Homo sapiens: one gene and its partner. The protein of the gene in region 2 purifies or fractionates together with the protein of the main gene of each other region. This does not show direct contact. Each region holds a gene or a part of one and is shown on either strand. Other genes may lie near its edges.

What was found.
Region 1: the proteins of LRRC52 (region 2) and TPCN1 purify together in Homo sapiens (co-immunoprecipitation; 2 studies listed by BioGRID and IntAct, with this or other methods). This does not show direct contact.

The regions. Positions count from the first base shown.
Region 1 is NC_000012.12:113,287,354-113,294,936, reverse strand, and holds part of TPCN1 (two pore channel protein 1), read right to left. Parts: intron 6,775-7,583; coding exon 6,703-6,774; exon of another isoform or gene 6,443-6,702; coding exon of another isoform or gene 6,439-6,442; exon of another isoform or gene 6,411-6,438; intron 6,341-6,410; exon of another isoform or gene 6,278-6,340; intron 6,180-6,277; coding exon 6,090-6,179; intron 4,810-6,089; coding exon 4,694-4,809; intron 3,986-4,693; coding exon 3,939-3,985; intron 3,415-3,938; exon of another isoform or gene 3,329-3,414; coding exon 3,260-3,328; intron 3,064-3,259; coding exon 2,979-3,063; intron 2,004-2,978; coding exon 1,864-2,003; intron 1,669-1,863; coding exon 1,588-1,668; intron 1-1,587. UniProt on the Homo sapiens protein: Intracellular channel initially characterized as a non-selective Ca(2+)-permeable channel activated by NAADP (nicotinic acid adenine dinucleotide phosphate), it is also a voltage-gated highly-selective Na(+) channel activated directly by PI(3,5)P2 (phosphatidylinositol 3,5-bisphosphate) that senses pH changes and confers electrical excitability to organelles.
Region 2 is NC_000001.11:165,539,455-165,547,123, reverse strand, and holds the start of LRRC52 (leucine-rich repeat-containing protein 52 precursor), read right to left. Parts: upstream 3,125-7,669; 5' UTR 2,828-3,124; coding exon 2,206-2,827; intron 1-2,205. UniProt on the Homo sapiens protein: Auxiliary protein of the large-conductance, voltage and calcium-activated potassium channel (BK alpha).

The DNA of each region.
Region 1 (7,583 bases), on a different chromosome or scaffold from region 2:
TCAGGCATGGACCCTGGTTGTCACTGTTTTAGTGAAACAGAAGGGCTTCAAGCTATTAGAATGCCAGAAAACAGAGCAAAGCCACCATAGCTGGTGTGGGAGAGGCTCCCCGGAGCCCTGGCAACCCTGAGGTGGTTGAGAAGACTCTGCAGGGCTCATGGGCTGGTGGCCCATGGTCTGGAAGGCACCGTGCCAAATGCCAGCCCACACGGTGCTTTGTGAGATATTTTCCTTAGCTGCCAATATGTAAAGATTGGGAGGTCATGCAAAAAAAGAAAAACATCTGATTCTGCCTTTTTTTTTTTTTTTTGAGACAGAGTCTAGCTCTGTCACCCAAGCTGGAGTGCAGTGGCATGATCTTGGCTCACTGCAACCTCTGCCTCCTGGAGTCAAGTAATTCTCCTGACTCAGCCTCTTCAGTAGCTGGGATTACAGGTGCACGGAACCAGGCCTGGCTAAATTTTGTAATTTTAGTAGAGACAGGGTTTCACCATGTTGGCCAGGCTGGTCTCGAGCTCCTGGCATCAAGTGATCCGCCTGCCTTGGCCTCCCAAAGTGCTGGGATTACAGGCATGAGCCACCATGCCTGGCCTGCCTTTTCTTAAATTAGAAGCCAAGGTGGAAGAATTGCTTGAGACCAGGAGTTTGAGACCCCAGCAAGACCTCACTGCTACAAAAATAAGGTAATTAGGGTGTCACAGTGCACACCTGTAGTTCCAGCTGCTTGGGTAGGCTGAGTGGGGAGGATCACTTGAGCCCAGGGGTTGGAGGCTACAGTGAGCTATGATCACGCCACTGGACTCCAGCCCAGGTGACAGAGCGATACCATCTCTAAAACAAAACAAAACAAAAAACACCCAATTATGAAAAATCCCAAGCACTCCCAGCCTGGCCAACATGGTGAAACCCCGTCTCCACTAAATATACAAAAATTAGCCAGGTGTGGTGGCGTGTGCCTGTAATCCCAGCTACTCGGGAGGCTGAGGCAGGAGAATCGCTTGAACCCAGGAGGCGGAGGTTGCAGTGAGCCTAGATCGTGCTGCTGCACTCCAGCCTGGGAGACAGAGCGAGACTCCATCTCAAAACAAAACACCAAGCAGCCCGACCGCAGTAGGGCCTTCTTCCTATTGGGCAGCACTCGCTGGGGCTGGGAGGAGGCTGTGTCCCCTTTGGACAGGCACATCCTGGAGCTGGGAGGAGACTGTCTCCTTTGGACAGGGACATCCTTGCCAGTTCACCACGGTCGCCGCTCTTTCCTCTTTGCTCACTGTGTTTCTTAGTACACATGTTTGAGTTTGCAGCTGACTCAGAGTAAGAGATGGAGAGGAGGTTCTGGAGAATTCATAAGGGGCAGGGACATATGGCGGCAGGCAGGCTGGAGAGCTGCCTCTGCTGGGCACGAGTCAAGGGTTCAAGGCTAAGTGAGCCCCGCTCAGGTCCCACACAACCCCAGCAGTGGTCCCGATGGACGGTCTGCATCTCTCTACCAGCCTTCTCCCTCTACTCAGAGGGCCAGAGAGCAGCTCCCTGCCCCTCCCAGGACATAGCTTGGGGGAGGATTCGCAGCGTGGTCGGCCAGGCTCCTACCTGGATCTCCTCCTGGTACATCTTCAGGCTCAGGTCGCTCTTGGTCCTTGATCGCCGTCCCAGAAACACCATGGAATGTTGCTAAGGAAGAGCAGAGGCTGCAGGGCTCGGCTGCAGATATTCAGGTCCCACCCCTGGTGCCACAGTTGGCGTCTCCCACTTCTCTGGCTTTTGCAACTGTGTCACTCAAAATGTTACCAATATCTGAGGGAAGGGATTATGCCACCCACACTGAAACCTGCCTCCCTCCTTCGGACCAGGGCCTGGGCTCCTCACCTGGTATCTCTCCATCTGGGAGAGGGTCTCCAGCAGCCTGGTGACATCCGAGGAGGCCCCCCGTGCCTCCCGGTAGAGCTCCAGGACGGCAACCAGCTCTTCTTTGGAGATTTCCTTCTCAAGGGTGATGCCACCATCAACTGCAGGGATGGAAGGCAGGTGTGGGAAGGGCCCGGGGCTGCAGCTGCCAACCTGGCTGGGTCTCGTACCTCCTTGCCCCCTTCCGCAGGGGGTCTTAAGGTTCTCTCTCTAAACCGACACTGCATTGGTGTCCTGCTCTCCTCGTTGGCCCTCCTTTCCCTTCCCCTCCCTCTGCTGTGATGTCAGGAGCGCAGGTCTAGCTGGCAGCTGTTACAGGGCCAGAGGGTTTCAGGAAGGGGCCTCTAAGCACAGAGAAAATGGTCAGATGGTCTGATAGCACAGAGATCTGAGGATGAGAGGTAACAAGTGTGGGCACAGGGTTTTCTGTTTCTTTTAAGAGACAGGGTCTCACTCCGCTGCCCAGGCTGGAGTGCAGTGGTGTGATCATGGCTCACTGCAGTCTTGACCTCCTGGGCTCAAGAGATCAAGTGCAGACAGTTTTGATGGAGAATTTGGGAAGAAGGGAGGGTCAGCACACAGAAAGCTGTGCAATCTGGGAAGAGTGAGGCAGTCACTAAAGCCAGCACCATCCAGTTGCAGCAGGAATACGATTCGCCTGTGCCATAAGCAATATTTACACCATTTAAATCAAGAACCGTAGTGTGAACCTATTATTGAGAAACGTGGAGATGACTAACAGAAGAAATAGCCAAGAAGGAGAAGCCTCTGGAGGACGGGAGGGAAAGGCAGGGCAGGGGCTGCTGCTGCCACATAAGCCTTTCTCTACTTCTTGATTTTTCTCCAACTATGACATGCTCTGTCTTATTTTAAAGTTAGATTACGTTTTCTGACATTAAATATTTGAAAATCAATGCAAATACAAGATCTAGAAAGACAAGCCAGATAGATAAGCTGGACAGCCAGACAGCAGAAAAATGACAGCCTGATGGCTGGCTGGACAGCCACCCAGACAGACAGACAGAGCTGGGTAGGCGGCAGATATCAAATGCCCAAGGCATCATCCCTGCACAGACCTTCCGAGTCCTGGTTCTTGCGGCTGTAGTTCATTCGGAAGACGAAGGCCTCGAGGATAAAGGCGACAATGATCGTCATCACCACCTGGCCAGGGATAGGGAGGGAGGGGCAGAGGCAGGGGAGGAGGGTGGGTAGGTGTCCGTGGCTGCGCAGCCCACGCCCAACAGAGTCCGGCCAGATGGGACCCAGCCCCACTCCCTGACGCTGCAGGCTGAAGAGCAGGGGCAGCTGGTGATGTGGAAGACGAAGGACAAAGAGCGTTCTGTGGTCCGGGACCTACCATGGTCACAATGTAAAAGGTCATGAAGTAGAGGCGGCTCCAGTGGGAGGTCTGAGAGGTGACGCCTTCCTGGAGACCAAGGGAAGCAGCCAGTGAGGGGGTGCCCATGCAGGGCAGGTCCCCGTCTACACAGGCTGCTCCATGGCCCCGGCTCTTCGCAGACCCCACCGTGATTTGTGGCTGGTTGTGAGAGATGGAGGAGAGGAAGCTTGCCCCTCTGGGCCTAACACTAATTCCTGACTGCTGAAGGAGCCCTGGCCACTCCCCTGGACGACTGGATCCAGAACCAGGGCAGCCTTTATCCCAGTAGGGCTGGGAGTCGGGAAAGTTTAAGGAATGGAATAAAGAGATCAGCAATGCTCGCCACTTTGTCACTAGAGGGAAAAGTCATCTCTACAGTGGGCGAGACAGGACAGAGACCCAGAGTCTAAGTGGCATCTCCTGGCTGCTGGGGACATGCAGGGAGATGGGAGTAACAGCCGAGTCCAGCCAACACTGGGAGGGGTGGCTCCTGGGGCCCAGCCATCCTGTGGCCTCCCCACTGAACACCAACACAGCATGACTCAAGACCCCCAGCCCTGCAAGCTACGGGAAGAATTATATACTCTGGGTTGGGGGAGACCCAGGGCCGACCCCAGGGCTGGCGGGAAGATACCCCCAGAGCTGCCCGAGCTCTTACCATGATGATGTACCAGTTGTTGACAACTGTGAGCTCAAACAGGGTCACTGCCGAGGGAAGAGAGAAAGAAGCATCCTGATGAGACCCCACTTCAAAGTCAATTTCAAGTGGCCTCTTGCCACCTATCCTGGGTGCCATGTGCTAAGATGAGAGGGTCACCATATGACCGCTTGGGTTGTGAGCTCCAGGAAAGACCAGGCAAGGCACTCCTAGGGCGCTGGCTCCACAGGACATCATGGCCTGCCCCCAAGAGAACACACCCTCTGCCTCAGCAGCCTGTGCCACATCAGACTATCTGGATCTTACTGGGTGCAGATCTGGGGTGTCATGGGGGCACACCCTTTTTCTGGAGAGGCGGTTTGGCTGTGTTCGCCTCTTCATGGGAGTGGGCAGAGGGCTGTGTGCAGTCTGAGCCAGGGGGCAGTGCAGCTGCAGCAGCAGTGGTGTGGCTGGGTCCCATTCTGCAAGTGGCACTGTGATGAGGGGACCCCGCCCAGCTAAGGCTTGCAACTCTTGTCCTCCCCGGTACTGAGAAAATATCAGGAAAGAGTGGAATCAGGCAACTGAGTGAGCTCCAGGATCCAGCCTGGACTGTACTGCCAAAGCTGGGCAGACCAAGTCCTCCACCTGGGCCAGGGAGGCTTCCAGAAAGTGTGGCCCAGACACTTGCTACACCACCTCTGGGACCCGTGGTGACAAGGGTGACAAGGGTGGGGTCCCCAGGGAATGTGCCCCCTGTGATTTTTCCCACTCACCAAAGCTGTTGAGGATGTTGTCAAAATTATTGAGATAATAGTAGCCTTCCTCCACCACGGTCCTGTTGCCCACGGTGTGGTTGCGCCAGCGGTAGGCATCTGCCACTGTACTCGTGCTGGCCGGAGCACAAGGGAGAAAGGAGGGAGGGTCACAAGGCGATCAGTCACCTCCAGAGAGGACAGAAGTCTGAAACAAACCGAGTTCTGGCCAAGGATCCTTCTGTTCTGCCCGCAGCCTGGTTTCCTGCCTAACCCTCTCCACCTCATGCCTGGGTCCCTGCTGAAGGAATGCCCTTGGCTATTCCTGCCTGCTGGGCTTGGCGGGATCCCCTGGCCAGCCTGACCCACCTCTGTCACCTGGAAGTTGTCTGCTGCAGGCAGGGCCTTCTCTCTCACCGTTGCTTGCAGGGGAGGGAGGAGAGGCAAGGGCCTCCTCTGCACCTGCCCCATCTAGGATCTGCTCTTGAGGCTGGACACTAGGCCACAGTCCCAGGGAAGGAATTCCCTACTGGGGCTTCCCCAATACTTGGCCTGAGCAAGTATTTGAAAAGGTTGGCCCTGTTTTGAGGAGCTCTTATTTGCCACTTTCCTTCCAATCTTTTATGGCTGTTCTGTTAATATCCATGCTAATGTTTATAAAAGTCTAGTGCTTGGGCCACCAGGGAGCCTCCTCCCACACGCATGCATCAGACACAAGAGTGAGGTCTGGAGCTTGCACTAAGCTCCCTGGTGACTGCAATGGGCTCTAAAGTCTGGGACCCACTGCTATAGGCTTCTGGTTCCAGACCAAGCTTGACACTCAAACTGGGTCTCAAAGCTACCAGTGTCTTTGTAAAACTGTTTCTTCATCGGTGCTTGAGGCTGTAAAGACCAAATGTAAGAGGACTCTCTGAATTGAGGATGAATGAATGGCAGTGTGCAGTGATTTCACTGTGGCGGCTCAGGAGAAAGGGAGTGCTCATGGGAGATTTCACTCTCTGCTCCCCATCCCTGAGCACCATGACCTTCCTGCACGTGTCCGTCTGTCTTATCCTACGATGCTGTCCCTAGAAGACTGGTCTTGGCCCAGGTCCCCAGCCACTCCAGGAGAGAAGTGGGAGGAAGCCATGGGACTTGACCTTGGGACCCAGGCTACTGTGGGGGTGGCCTCCAGCCCTCGGCAGAGGGTGAGCTGACAGCTCCCAACCCTGCCTGGGGGATGGAGAAACAGGGACCCCGAGTCCAGGCCCCTCATTTAGCTCACTGCACTCAACTAAGCCCTGAAAGCAAAGCAAGGTGGTTGCTTAGACAGGAACATCCCCGAGGACCCCAAGGCCACAAGGACACCAATCCTGGCCCTGGCCAGCCCTCTGCCCGGGAAATGCAGGCTGCCTGGGGCTGGGTGGGGCCTACTCACTTGCAGCAGTTGGGGAAGACGATCCCGCAGAAGAACTCCATGCCCACGATGGCGAAGGAGTAGTAAAAGATGAGCAGGGTGAGGCCCAGGCTGTGGGGCGACAGGGGCAGGGTGACGCGGGGCCGGCAGGAGGGAACGGCTCCTCTGCAGCCCCGGCCTCCTCGGACCCGTGGGGCTGACTGCAGGGCCATGCCCCTGGTCGGTTCACCAACTGGAAAGTGCCTGCGGGGAAGGGGCCTCGTGGGGCAGCTCTGGGGTGAAAAACAGCTCAAGTCAGGACGCTATGAACAAATGCCCCTTTCCCAGAGATTCACCCCTTACCTGTGAAGGTAGACTCACAGGTGACCCCTTACCTGTGAATGTAGACACAGGTGGTAAGCGAGTTGACAGCTCCCTGCCCTCCCTACTAAATATGTCAGACAGGTCAGTGGAGAAAAATGGTGCCCAGGAGACCTGTGGTGGTCAAGATTCCAGGCTCCTTGGAGCCCCGTCAGGCCCTCGATTGCAGTCCTTTGTGGAACTCCTTTCCCCCGACTGCCACTCGGCTCCCGCCCCCACGGGGCACTGCCACACGGCACCTGGACCTGCAGGCCAGGGTGGGGGCTGGCAGTACCTGGCCATCCGGGGCAGCAGCTCGAACATGGTGTCCAGCACGTTGCGGTAGCGCTCCTTCAACTTAAACAACCTGAGCGAGGAGGACACCCGTCACCTCCACACACAGGTGCACGCCTCAGCCCCCGCCCTCAGAACATGCCGGCCCCGCCTTCCACACGCCATGCGGTGAAGACAGGTGAGGGCCTCTCCTCCACCTGCGTCCACTCCCTTGGGCGCCACCAACCCTGAGCTGGGCTCAGGTGATTCATGCATGAGGGAAGGGATGGTGGCAGCCCCAGGACACCGGCTGGGCGGGGTCCTTCCACGAAGAGGAGCAGGGCCAGGCCACATCTCCTTGCAGTAGAGCTGCAGGCTCAGACAGGAGCAAGGCCTTGCTCCTGGGAAAGAGCGGGGAGAAGCCCATGTGCCCCGGGGAGCGGGGGCAATGGAGCTCACCAGTGAAGAAGGGTGGCAGGGGGCGGGACGGAGGCGGACACTCAGGAGCAGCCCCAGGCCACCCCCACACGCCAAGGGGGTAGGCTTTTCCTCCATAGACGCCACCACCCCTCCCCGCACCTGCCCCGCCTGTCCCGCCTTGGGAGAGGATGGGGCGGACGTGGATGGGGTTGCAGCTGGAGGGTCAGGAGGCAAGCCCAGGCTCTGAGGGCACAGGACCTCGGGACCCCTCATTAGGAAGAGACACCGTCAGTGGGGCAGGCTCGTCTGGGACTTTCTCCAGTGTCCCTGGGAAACCAGTGGGACCCACACGAGGGTTTTTCTCCATAAGACGCTGAGCCAGAAAAGCACGCAGGGCCCCTGAAAGGCCCTTCCAACCCTCAGACCTGTGGCTCTGTGATCTGTGACTTGAGCATATGGGCTCCTGTCGCTGGTGCAATGCCA
Region 2 (7,669 bases):
AAATACCAATCCTAGACTCTTCCACAGGCTGAGGGCACAAGTTTAAGTGTTGGTGTGACACTCATGCTAAAGGAAATGAGGTACCATGTGTGGAAAAATGGAGGGAGATGAGCAAATTAGCAGTTGTGGGTACGTGTGTGGGGTCCCACGGCTGGGGGATGAAAGCTTTGTCTACCTCACAAAACAGACTCTTCATTCATGAGGAGCTTATAATCTTGACAAGATAGACACTCCTTTCTGATGTCTTGGAAAATATGCGGTGAAAAAGATCTACTTTATAATCCCATTCAACTGTGGATTGAACTGAAGAGTCAAGGAGTCCAAAGTGGTCAGCCTGAAAATTCTGAGAAGATACAACTGTGCAAGCAGAAATCTGATGAAGGGAGATGGAGTGGGAGGTGAAATGGTAGGCTTAGGTGCTGGGGTGGAAGCCAAGCTATGTTACTCTTGTCATCTGGGGTGGGAGGTCCCACTTGCAACCTGATGGGCTATACTCAAGGAAAAGTGCATGTATGGTGGGGAGGGGCAAAAGAAGATGACACCCTTCCACAGGCTAATTTACAGGAACATGGACAGGGGAGAATCCCCTTTATGGACCACAGGTCATGCATGAGGATGATTAATATTGAACCTCTTTGATAGTGCTTTCTAGACACTATCACAGTTTTGGAGAAAAGTAGAAAACATTATCTCTGCCTCCTAGAGTTGGTGTTATAGAGAGGCAAGGCAACCTACCTGAGATAACTGCTTCTGCATTCTAGTCCTGTTGGAAGATGGTCTGACAAAGTTAGTTTCTTTTGATTTATTCTAACAACTCAAGTTGAGGTATCTGGCAGTAGGGTCAGGTGTCTAAGGCACAACATTTAAGGAGGCACTGACTCACAATGTCTTATTCTCAGTGCACTCGCTCTCAGTGCCTCCTTAAATTTTGCCTCCTAAAAGCCCTGCTTGCCTCATCCCAGTCCAGACTCTGCCAGGAGGACTTTTTGAGACACACCCATTGGGAAGCCAGGAGGGCACGTTTTTTACTTACTGTCACCACTTGATTCTCTCTCCCCCAGTTCTCCTTGAAGTCTGTCATTCTGGCCAGGATTATTTCTAGCATATTGCCACCTGGGCAGTACTTCATGGTGGAAGTTTCAGCAGGAGTTTTATGAAGCTGCGTCTATGAAAACGTTTTCAAAGGCAAACACCCAGGGAAGACAGAAACTACATGGTTTTGACAGGATTTGATTTTCTACCCAGAGTCCAATTTTGCCGGATTACATCAGTGGCTCCAGACTTTCTGTGAGGAGTTATTTCTCATTTTTCTGAAGCTCTGACTTTCCTGGGTAAAAATGCTATTATTGGTGGAGAGAAGAATTGGAGGGTAAGGATGAGACAGTAAAGTCCCTAAGATAAAGAGGGAATGAAGCACAGGGGCCGTGGCAGGCCGGGTGAGGACAGCGGGTAGAGTGGTGGCAAGGAGCTTGGAAATCTCCCAGGTAAGAGCTGAGCATCTATCTACCTGTAAGACTAGAATCTCTCTGCTTGACACAGTGAGCACTGGACCCTTTCTCCATTGATTCATGCCATTCTCTCCTTCCATAGGAGGCCAGCATCTTCAAAACAAAGCAGCTATCAAAAGCCCTTTCTTCCTTCTTCCCTCCCTCTCTCACTGTCTGGGTAGCTCACGTGCCCCTCCTTCCATCTTTATGTTAAACTTTCCTTTCTATATATCATAATCCTATATGAATGACTGAATTTACTTTTTGATCCTGGAAAAATTCAGTTGCTGAATTAAACAGATTAAAACAGTTTACCAACAGAATACAGTGTCCCTATATTACCTTGTCACTTTGCAATTAGAGTACTTCATCATTTCTACACACATCATATATTTGATGCAACTCTGTGCCTTAGGTAATATTATTGTCCCCACTTTATGGATTAGAAAACTGAGGCTCAGAGAAATGGTGACATTTTCAAGGGTAGCCAACTGGTAAGTGCTGAGTTTGGGACCAGAACTCAGCTCTTTGAATTCCTATTTCAGAACTTTTTCTTACTGCTACTCCAGTCAACCCAAGGGTGGGCCCTGCAGAGTAATAAGAATGCATTCAATCAGCTTCACCCAACTTTTTCTCCCATTCTGACCATCTTTTGAGTTCACCTTTTCTGGAGCCACTTCAATCACATCCTCTTCCCCACACCCAATCAAGCCCTCACCTGAGGGGTCCATATGGAACACTATTAAGAAGATGGCGAAGTCCAGGAAAGAGCAGTTGCACTTCCAGGGGTTTCCACTCAGAAACAGGGTCTCCAGAGTAGTGAGGTGGTATAAGGCAGCACTGTCCAGGGTCTGCAAGCCGGTATTTCTGAGGTCCAGGTACCTCAAAGAGGTGGTGTTGGCAAAGGTGAACTTGTGAAGCGATAACAGGTGAGGGTTGTTGGCAATGTTCAGCTGCACCAGGTTGCTGAGCACCGAGAAAGTGAATGGGGAGATCGAGGTTAGGTTGTTGGAGCTGAGGTCAAGGTAGATGAGTTTGAAGACCCCGATGAAGGTATAATCCATCACCTCTCGAATCCGGTTGTTCTGACAGTCCAAATAAACAAGGTCACTGAGGAGTCCTAGATGCATTGCTGGCAAACTAGTGATTCTGTTCTCGTTCAGGAACAGCCTCCGGGTGTTCAGGGGTATGTCAAGGGGGTATTCGGTTAACTGCTTCCCTGTGCAGATTACTTCTTGGGCTTGACACAGACAATTATTTGGACACTTTGACCCTGATACCAGCCCCATTCCAAAGGAAAAGAGTAACCACCCAGGGCCAGGGCCTGAAGCAAGGGACATAGTAAGAAGCCACAACCACCCTCCTTTCACCTTCCTGCGGGCTCTGTCCTCTGATCCGAAGGCTGCCGGTGGGGGGGTGGGGCGGGGGAGGGGCTCTGGAAAGAACTGTAACACTTTAGCTTTGTGCAAAGCAATTTTCCATTACAGGAGAACTGAACAGAAATTGAAACGCGAGGCTCAATGCCCTGCCGCCCAGCTTGGTGGCTCTGTCGCTCGCTCCCAGACTGCTGCTGGAAGCTTGCCCACTTGGCAGCTTTGAAAGGTCTCACCCTTTCCCTGCGTTTGCAAGTGAAGGGGAGCCAGGGGAGAGCCACATGACAATGAGGTTGCCAGTTGACACCTTTGTGATGTCAGCAGCCTCAGGAGACTGCCTGGCTGAGGGAAAGAGATTCCTCACCTCTCCTTCTGGGTGGTGTGAGGGTGTTTTATGTGTCTTGGTAAGCCAGCTGGAACTCCCTGGGGGAGTTGGGGCCTCATGGGTAGGGGCCTGCAGCATGTGTGTGTTGGAGACCAGGCTGGGTTCAGTGTGTGGATGTGTATAGTATCTGTACCCGCTCCCCATGGAGCTGTAGTAGATTAGGTGACATTGGACCCCCTAATCTGCAGGCCATAGAGGGAACATGGGACATCTCCAGGCCAACTCCTTTTCTTAGTGATGAGCAGTGACTTGCTTGAGGTCAGTTCTCAGTGTGGGTCTTTTCTTGGATATTGATTTGGATGGGTGCCAGTTTTTCAGTGTTGCCAGAAGAAGATGGGAAAGGGGGTGTTTCTTTTGAAATGAGGCAAGGGGAATTCCTCTGATAAAGTGGTACTCTTTTCAGACTTTATTCCTAGGATGTATACATCTCTGTCTGCATTTTGAATATATATATATGTGTATTTTTAAAAAGTTTTTGAATAAGTGTAAGCTACTCCTTCTAACACAAAACCCAAATGTATATATAAAAAATCTGAGTGCAACAATAGAAGTATTTTTTTACCACTCGTATTCTCCTAGGACTTTTAAAATAGTGAGTGCCTCTCTAGTACTTCTAGTGTGAGTTTATATTCATTAATTACTTGTCAGGTGATTAGTCTTTTGGAGCGAGGGATAGAAAACCTGGAAGCTGAAGAGTTGGGATGTATCACACACCCCGTGGAGGAAGGCATATCAGGCAGAAATAAGATAAAACATCTGAGGAGTTGAAACTTTTATTTTTGGGAAAATTGGATTTCATTTTTTAAAAACATTCATATATACTGAGTTGTGAATATTAGTAACATATTGAAACCTAAGCACAGTGCCTGGCACCTGGTATGTAATAAATGTATAGTGAATGAACAATGTGAGAATGTTTCTGATGGTTTGCTTCCTTCTCTTGCTTCTTTGCCAAGAGAGAAATTAATAAAGTCAGATGGATTTGTGGCTAGTTAGCTAATGCTTGATTGTTTACTTACTCAGCATTCCTTGGGTGACTGGCTGTGAATTAATATGATGACTTAGGCGTGTTTACCAAATTGAAAGTGACCTTATTTAAGTAGACATTTCAAATACTTAAAGTAATGACCCCAATGATAGCTGTACTAATTGAAGCATGACTTAATTGATAGGGCAGACACCCTTTCCTCATAATTAAAACAAATTCTATTAAAATATAAGTTCCTTTCTAGATCTTATGTGATTGCCGAGGAGAGAAATCTAGCACATGAAGTCTATAGAAAAGAATTAATTTCCAAAGTGACTGCTCTGGGAGCTGTGGCGAGGGTGTGTTTTGCTGGTGGAGTGTGGCAGGGATACTTTGTTTGGAAGGGCTGTGTTTGTTGTCTGCTTCCTTTCCATGAGAAATGATCACTGATTCACTCGCCAAAGCTCATGGAGTGATTTTGCTGACGTGTCACCTTTTCTTTTATGCCATTCTCCCTCTTTCTGACTTCTTCCCCTCAGACGGCCCCATCTCCAGGTTGCCCTACTTCATTTCCAGCCTCATTATCCATACTAGCTTTCTCAAGATAGTAGTCTCAGGATTAGGCCTACCTGTTTGGCCGTATGGTTACAAGTGCTCTGCTTAGAAAAGCCTTAGGTAAATATATCATGCTAAAGGTTATTGACTGACACCAGTCAGCTATGCCTGGCTCTGGAGTATTACCATTTTCACAAAGCACTATGAGTGGTTTAACCTCAGGGAATATTCTTTTTGTTTGAGGTAGCTGTATTGTTTTTGGTCCTGAAACCTGGACACTCATGGGCTAGTTTCAGCTTTGCCAGGTTAGACCACATCTCTAAAGTGTGTACCTCATTTTGAGACTGAATAAATATATGTTCGATAAAGAAGAAGCAGACTAGACAAAGAAAAGAGAATGTAGCATTGCTTGAATTACCTGATTTCAGAACCTTAAATAAATTTTGTTTTCAAAGAACAACTTGTGAAACTATTATTTCAGAAATCCTGCTTTGGGAAGTCCTAGACTAGGCTGTTTGTTCTTGGTTGAGGTGCTTAATTTCTCTGGGCTTTATTTCTGTCATCTACATATTGAGGGAAATGAAGTAGATAATTTCCAAGTGTCTTTAGGACTTCCAAATTCCTTCATAATGGAAAGGTTTCAGGCATCACCCAGCAAACCAGTAGAGGCTGGAGTGCAATGGCACGATCTTGGCTCACTGCAACCTCTGCCTCCCAGGTTCAAGCTATTCTTCTTGCTCAGCCTCCCAAGTAGCTGGGATTACAGGCCCCCACCACCATGCCCAGCTAATTTTTTTTGGTATTTTTAGTAGAGTGCAGTGGTGTTATCTTGACTCACTGCAACCTCTGCCTCCCAGGTTCAAGTGATTCTCCTGCCTCAGCCCCCCGAGTAGCTGGGATTACAGATGTGCGCCACCACACCCAGCTAATTTTTGTATTTTTAGTAGGGACAGGGTTTCACCATGTTGGCCAGGCTGATCTCAAATTCCTGACCTCGTGATCTACCCGCCTCGGCCTCCCAAAGTGCTGGGATTACAGGCGTGAGCCACTATGCCCGGCCGCCTTTCTACTCCTTCTAATCACACCATATAGTCCCACCTATCATGTGGCTGCAAAAAGGACAATCTCTCTACCCAGTGAGCGGCTCATGCAGCTTCAGATGCAGCATGGTCGCCCTTCGTGTGTGTGGCTGTTTTATTAGCCTGCCCCTGCCCCTTGGATAGCTGGTGTGCCCATCCTTCCAGGAGGACAGGTGAAGCATCAAGTGAGCACTTGGAGAGGCCCCTCCTGTCTCATACAATCGCGCTAGCTGACTCTGCTCTCAGGCAGGCTCCTATTTTTAGCTGTATCTGATGGAGGCACTGTCTTCCCAGCTTAATGATCCCTCTCAGGTGCCAGTGTGCCTCCAAACAGCTCTCTGGTGATCCAAAGGACAGGTGGGCACAGGCCCTGATATCATACAAAGAAGAGGCTGGGTGATATAGGGCAAAGTGAACACAATTGAGAAGCTGAGGCAGTATGACATCGTGCCCTCTCAAAGCCCTGATTTTCTTTCTGTAAAACAAGACAGGACGCTCTCCAAAGGCTTTCCCAGTTTTAAAGTTCCATCAAACTTCAGTTGTGAAGGGAGAGAACAGATGATTGAAGCGTCAAAGCCCAAGCAACTAAGACAGAGTCAAGCGATTACAAAGCAGACCATGAATGTTAGCTAGTAAATAGTCCACTCAGCTGTCTGGGTACAAGTGCTAAGGGATATTTAATTTTGGCATGCTTTTATTTTCTCAGGAGAAAAATAGCAGAAGGAAGTGCACATGCCATTTTATTCCATTGAAACTGCCAATGTGCTCAACTTAGGACTTACATGGGGTTAGCAACGTAGGGGCACACAAGTCAGTACTTTGTTAAACTGCTCCCCAGGCAGGGAATGTTGTGGGTTCAGGTCTAAAGAATGTAACAGTCTCAAGGACTTTGGTGTAGGAGCCACTTATGGTATCCAGTTCACTCCAGACTTTTGACACTGCCTGGGCCCTCTTCAGCAAACTCATCTCTCAGCAGGTGTGGGGCTTGGGGACAAAAAGTTCAGCCTGAAAGTGGAAAAAGAGTTCCAAAACATGCCGGGAAGGCTGAGGCCTAAGGGCTGAATATGTGTGTATCTGTCTATTCATGAGCCTTGGTTCTGTTTGCTGTGCCAGCTGGTAGAAACTATTTTTGTCTTTTCCCTTCAGGCTGCCGGAGTCTCCACTAGGGAGATTGGACTCTAACAGAGTAAAGGCCAGAGGGCCAGAGGAAATCACTCCCATTTGTTGCATTCCCCAGGGATATCTTTGATTTCCAGGCTTCATCCGCATTCTATACTTCTGCAGGATTCACTGTCCAGAGGAATCCAAGGGGAAGCCTGTAAATTGTATACCCTTTTTAGGGGCAGAATTAGATCATGTTTTCAGCTTATAGCAAATCAATAAACTGTTGCCCATGGCTAAGATTATGTGTAGCAGTCCTTATGCCTGAAACTTGATTTGAGACTGCCAATAATGGTGGCTGTCTAAGCCCAGTTGATTTGGGAAGAGAATATGGACCCTTTATAGGAGACTTGTAGATTTCAGAATGGGAGAGAAAACTGTGGCACAGTGTGAGCTTTGTAGTGAGAAGATTCCTCTGTGGGTGGCTTTGGGCACACATTTTAGCTTCTGTGGGCATTGGTTTTCTCTTTGGTAAAATAGAGATGATGAATATTGCTTTTCCAGTGTTGTTACATAGATTGCCTGTGATTTAAGGAAACACGATAGCCACTATTTACTATTTACCCTGTGTCAAGAATGTGATCCTCCCAGCAACGCAATGAGTCATATTGCATGACCCTCATCTTATGAATGAAGAAACAGAAGCTCCCAGAGGTGCCACT